Homo sapiens: one gene and its partner. The protein of the gene in region 2 purifies or fractionates together with the protein of the main gene of each other region. This does not show direct contact. Each region holds a gene or a part of one and is shown on either strand. Other genes may lie near its edges. The genes, in order: CD226 and SNX7.

Region 1 (3,835 bases), on a different chromosome or scaffold from region 2:
CTTCATTTCATATTTATTTAAAAAATAAATATGTGCTTCATTTTGGATCATGATTTATAAAGATGAGCCAAAGAGCAGCCTAGACGAGAGCAAGTCATATGGAATGGAGTCCAGCAACAGGAACCCTAGTGCAGTATCAGAAAGTCAGGGCAAAGAGACAGGTCAGAAACCACGATAACAAAAAACATATGTGTTAAAATGTTTATACATGGAGATCGACTTCTGCCTTTAGTGTCATCATGTTAAGGCATGGAAGATGTTGCTGCCATGCTTATAACAAGACAAAGCTGGAAAGTTGGAAAGCTGAAAATCAATGACTTTTCTTATTAGACCTATTAGAGAACCAAGGTCCTGAGCAAACTGCCACCCCAAAATCTGGAGATACAGATACATCCAGAGAGATACGCAACCAATAGCCATTTATCTGGAGTCAAAGCACTGGAGCCATAAACTAGTATGAGCCTTTATATGGTAAGTTGGGTGAATTGCTGGCATCTGTTTGTGGACTGGTGTGAGCAAGAAACCCATGGGGGCTGTGCTCTTGAGGCACTCCACACATTCAAGGGCTTTTCCAGTAGGAAACTCCAAGGTTCTCATTATGAGGATCCAAGAAAAATTTCCTCGTGGCTCTGGCAACAGATAGAGAGGGACATCCATTGAGAAATAAGCCATGAACCTTCTTGGTAACAAAGATGGAAAGGACTCTGCCAAGCACAATTCCCAAACCTCATCCCAGCCCCTGAAGTCTCCCTGTCCCACTTAAGGAAAGAGGGAAAATAACAGTCAACAGGGGGCAGGCCTTCAAAGAAATACATTGGGAATGCTGCAGCCAGGAAAGAGAGTTGAGGATGAGGAAGCAATACCACTGGAGAAGCTCTGTGAATGTCCCAGACACAGACCCACTAAAAGACTGAGATTTCACTGTAAGATTACAGAGCACTCTCCTTTCCCACAGCTTAGTACTACACCAACAGGGCTCCAGTATAGTAACAGTGAATTGCAGAGGAAAGAGCTGAAAGACAGAAAGTCTCTCTGAAGAGGAGCACTTAGGGAAGCCTGAACTCAAGAAGGGGAAAAACACATGAACAAACAAAACAAAGACACTAGAGGAATTTGAAGAAATTTAGCACCTATGGTTATAACAGACTTTAAACACAGTCTAATAGTTAGTCAGATTAAGATAAGTCTGCAAGCTAAAGACTTATTTACCTGTTCCTATTACATAACACACCAGATCTGGCTTGCAACAAAAAATTCAAAAAAAATGTCAAAGAACGTCAAAAGGCAAGAAAAGTCATGGTCTGAAGAGATAAAGCAATCATTGGAACCAGATAGAGACATGACACGTGTCAGAATTATCAGACATGGAACTTATCATTAATATGTTAAGAGCTCTCATGAAAAAAATAGACAACAGATGGATAATGTAAGAAGAAAGATGGAAACACTAAGAAGGAATAAAAAAGAAATGGTAGCAATAAAAAACATAGTAATAGAAAGGAAGGATATCTTTGATGCAATTATCAGTTGACTTGGAACCCCGAAGGAAGAATGAATGACTTTGAAGCTAGGCCAATAGAAACTTTTCAAACTAAAATTCAAAGAGTGGGAAAAACCCAGAATATTCAAGACTATGGAATAATTGAAGAAGAAGAAAGAATGGAGCAAAAGAATGTTAGAAGTAATAACGTCTGGGAACTTGCCAAAATTAGTGATAGACACCAACTCAGGTAGCTCAGATAACACTAAATAGAATAAATACCAAAAAAAAGAGGGGAAAAGGAGAAAAACCTAGGTTGATCAATGAAAGATATGCCACGAGAGAAAATTAAATCATGTAAAAACCCCAGTTAAAATCAGAGAACACAGAAAAAGGAGGATAAAAAAGAAAGAACGAGTGCAAGGATAGAAAAGTTACAAACATAGTAGATATTAATCCAACTATATCAATAATCACTTAAATTTGAATAATCTAAATGTACCAATTAGAAGTGGTGGGTTTAAACACACAAAAAAGATGAATGTTAGAGGTGACAGATATCACGATTACCCAATATGATCATTACATATTGTATACAGGTATCAAAACATCACATGTACCCCCCAAATATATACAACTCCTATATATCTACAACATTTTTAAGTAAGAAAAGTGGGGAAATTACAAATAGACGCAACTATACATTGTCTATAAGAAAGGCACATTAAATATAAATATTTAGATAATTTAAAATTAAAAGGATAAAGATGTGAGATGCTAATGTTAATTTTTTAAAAAACTGAAAGTTATGTTAATATCAGAAAAAGCAGACAGAACAAGAAAGATTATCAAGAATAAAAGGGACATTACATGTGGTAAAGGGGTCAATTCTCCAAGAAAACCTAACGATTCTGAAAGTATATGTACTAACAAGAGTATCAAGATACATGAGACAAAAACTAACAAAACTGCAAGGAGAAATAGAAAAATCCACTATTTTACTTGCAGTCTTTAACGAGACTTGATCACTTGATCTGTCAGTATGTGATAGATCAAGAAGAGGGAAAATCAGAAAGGATATAGATAATCTGAACGGTGGTATCAATCAGTTTAATCTAATGGACATTTGTAGAATATTACACTCAACAGCAGAATGAACATTCTTCTTAAGATCACATGAAACATTCTACAAGATAGACCATATTCTGGGCCATAAAATACACCTGAAAAATTTAAAAGAATAGAAATTATACAAAGAATGTTTTTAAAACATGATGAAATTAAGTTAGAAATCTGTAAGAGATATAAAGTAGAAAAATCCCAAAATATATAGAGATTAAACAACACATTGTAAATAATTCATGGCTCAAAGAAGAAATATCAAAAGAAATTTTAAAATATTTTGGACTAAATGAAAATAAAAATAGAGCTTACCAAAACTTGTGGAACAAAGTGAAATTTATAGCATTAAGTGCCACTATTGGAAAAGAAAACAACATATAAAATCAATAATCTAGGCTTCCACCTTAAGAAACTAAGGAGGCCGGGCGCGGTGGCTCACTCCTGTAATCCCAGCACGTTGGGAGGCCGAGGCGGGCGGATCACGAGGTCAGGAGATCGAGACCACCCTGGCTAACACGGTGAAACCCCGTCTCTACTAAAAATACAAAAAAATTAGCTGGGCATGGTGGTGGGCGCCTGAAGTCCCAGCTACTCGGGAGGCTGAGGCAGGAGAATGGCGTGAACCTGGAAGACGCAGCTTGCGGTGAGCCGAGGTCGCACCACTGCACTCCAGCCTGGGCGACAGAGCGAGACTCCGTCTCAAAAAAAGATAGCTATTCATTAGACATTGAAAGAATTATAAAATAGACATACAAAATTACAGAAAGGTTAGAAGAGTAATCTCTATCTCTAGAAGCTACTGAGCCATTACATTTCTTTGTACATTTTTTATGTGAGCTAAAATCAAAATTTGCTTCTGAGGACCATTATACGATAAAAATAAAGTGTGGGATAAATCAGCTCAACTGAAGCCACATCCAAAGCTGTTACTCAGAAAACTTAGTATCACTGAGAGTATATTGGAGAGCTCAAAGTCTTACTCAGGCAGCTGATCAAAGAATAATGGTCTTAGTCACTGTAAGTACTTTTGGATACCTGGCATAAAGGATGTAATGAATACATGATTGAATAAGGATATATCTTAAGAATGCATTTTCATAAAAACATAAAATCAGTTGAGATTATGTAAATTTTGAAGAATGAAGAAAGTAAGTTATCATAGCTTCTTCTCAAGTTTTATTTTTATGTCTTACAAATATGGCTGGGCAATACAACACAAGGCTTCCTTTTCAG
Region 2 (2,975 bases):
GTTTAAAAATTATATTTGCCAATATTTAAGAAAAGTGTTTCATTTTATATTTATAGCTGTGTGTGTATAAGTGAATCTCGTGTCTCAGTTAAAACAATTTAAATGTCTAGTTTTGTGACACTTGATAATACCCAAAATATGAAGTCACATGTGTAAGACAGCAAGCATGACCAAACTCCTCAAATTTCAGTCCTGAGAAATATCTATTTCTGAAAATCAGCAAAAATTAAATAATCAACACATTTAGCTTTTTTATATGGTTATAAAATTAATAGAAAAAATCTGTATGATCAGTATTACTAGAATGTAAGCTCTGAAAGTATCTTTTTCATCACTACAGAACATAAGCACCTACAACTGTGCCTTGCATGGAGTAGACAATAAATGAATGGGAAAATAAACTGGATAAACACTGTATATCTTAACAAATAAAAGCTAGGTATGAATTGTAAAGAATATGCACAAATTTTACAAAGCCCAAATATATCTACTAGTGGGAATATAATTATATAAGGATTTCTAACTAATAACTCAAATAACAATTTAAATCTTGGAAACTTTTTAATTGTGGAAAACAATTACTTAACTTTTAACAAATTAATTTTTGAACAGTTATCAATTTTAATAATGTCAATTTTTAGATATTACTTTGAGTTCCTAATATTAAACTGAATAGTATTTCAGAGGAAATGATAATGAAATAAAAATGAATACGCAGTATACTTGTTAACACATGCTGAACTCATTTTAGAATGTTTAAGAGGCTTGAGCTACTAGGAGGAAAAGAATACACTGCAGCCAACCACTTCATACTAAACTTTTTATTAAAACAGTCCTTACAACATATTTAAAATGGCATGTTCCACAGTCAAATATTTAAGAAAAAAAATCTATATGCAATTATTGGCACACAAATTTAAGAACATAATTAAAACCAAGCCAGATATCTCTCTGTATTTATATATCTATATACATATAGATATATATCCATACAGATAGATATATCTTCAAATTCATGTCAGTGACCTGGAATACCTGAGATTTCAAGTTGTTGGTTTTCCAGATGGGTACAAAACATTTTTCATCCACTTTATAAGGACACGGCAGATCCAGAAAGAATAACTTTGGTTAATAAATGCTGTCTCCCAAAGATCAAACAGAAGTCCTCAATGGGATTAAGGTTTATCTTCAGAGGCTTCTTCCAAGTGAAGGTTGGTCTGTGATGTAAGGAATGACTCCCACGTAGCAAGGCACTGAATAATGGAAACACACCATGAGGCAATCAACAATAGTTTACTTTCAGTGTTAAAGGATTAATAAATTCTAACACATCTGTTCCTACTGCAATCTGCTCTATTCTTCTCTCCCATCAGCTTGTCAGAATCCTTGTCATTTTCTACATATTTTAATTCTTAATGAGGGATGCTACTGCTAAGTAAGGGGAAAACATATTAAAGGTTAAAAAGATTAGCAAGGATTAGTTTGCTGAAATAATCTACTATTACCCCATATTAAGAGAAAAATAAGAGCTTCACGTTATAGAGGCAAAGATGGACCCAGCTGGAGCTGAGGAGGAGTGATGATACAAACATACTTCAGTTCGATTTGAATCCCATTACGTCAATTGTGAGTTTGAGAAAGTTGATTAATCTTTATTGGAGTTTCTTCAGCTATAACTTAGGTTAATAATAGTACTTACCACTAGCACAACTGTGAGAATTAAATGTATATAATCTGTATAAGTCTCTATGCAGAATGCCTAGCATAAAGTGAATGCTCCAAAAGTTAGCAACTGTTATGATGGTCTGTTGGGACTGGGTGGAAAGACTTAGTTATTAATGTGCCACAGGAAATGAAACAGGATTGTAAGGGTCTGAAGGCGCTGGGAACACATAAACATAAATGTGGCCTATTTGATTTTGCCTGGGGATGATCCTCCTAATAGACTAGTCTCAAGTATCTGTATGAAGTTTATCTACAGCATAATTTTAATAGTCTGTACACATTTAGGATTCTTGTAAATCATAACTACTCTAATATATATTCAGCCTGAGCTATAATGAATTTGGAAAGAAATTATGTTTTTTTTTTTCAAATGTGGATAGACTGCCATAGACATGTATGTTTCTACATAAACACTCCAAAGCTGGACTGATTAACACTGGTCCACCTGGCTCAACTACCTCCATGTCACTTCTTCTGCCTCTAATGCTTTCACAGCTTTAAAGTGTCTATATCGGACAACCAGCACTAATAACAGACTAGAGATTTCTCAAACACTGTAAAAACTCAAATGTTTAAAGCTCTCAAATTATAAGTGTGTTGCATTTCAAAAAGTATGTATGTATATACTTATGTGTGTGTGTGTGTGTGTATGCACAAACACATTTTTTTCAAACTGAAGATTTAGAATATGGGAAATACTATGTCAAATCTGATTTTCATAAAGATTACATACTGTGATTTAATTCTGAGATAGGCTCTAATAACTTAGGAAGCTAATAATAAAGCTAAAAGATTCGTATAATTACATGAGAACAGTAAAACACTGAAAGACCTAATTGTCAAATAAAAAGATACTGGGTAAAATTTACCCAATAAATTACTGGATTAAATAGTGGGTATTTATTTTGTCATATATTTTGAAGGCCAGGCTTGGGGTAATGTAGGCCTCATTAGAATAATCAAGTTTATCAAGACTTTAAGGGATACTTTTTGCTTTAAATAGCTTTAGAAGGTACTGAAAGCCAAGTACAATCCAAGAAGCACAGTCACTGTAATGAATTGATTCTGGGATTTGCTTTTATCCTCCAGTAAGTTACTAACTTTATGATATTGTAGCTCCTCAGATATATAATAATAATAGCCTCTCTCATAGGGATGGAGAAATAACAAAATAAAATAGGAAGAGGAGGGGAGGGGAGTAGAGGAGTCAGGGTCAGGTAGTTACTACAGGAGCCAACTAGTAAGAATGG

The links.
Region 1: the proteins of SNX7 (region 2) and CD226 purify together in Homo sapiens (co-immunoprecipitation; one large-scale study listed by IntAct). This does not show direct contact.

Annotation. Positions count from the first base shown.
Region 1 is NC_000018.10:69,853,866-69,857,700, forward strand, and holds part of CD226 (CD226 antigen isoform a precursor), read right to left. Parts: 3' UTR 1-3,835.
Region 2 is NC_000001.11:98,758,332-98,761,306, reverse strand, and holds the end of SNX7 (sorting nexin-7), read right to left. Parts: intron 1,254-2,975; coding exon 1,176-1,253; 3' UTR 807-1,175; downstream 1-806. UniProt on the Homo sapiens protein: Involved in the regulation of endocytosis and in several stages of intracellular trafficking. Together with SNX4, involved in autophagosome assembly by regulating trafficking and recycling of phospholipid scramblase ATG9A.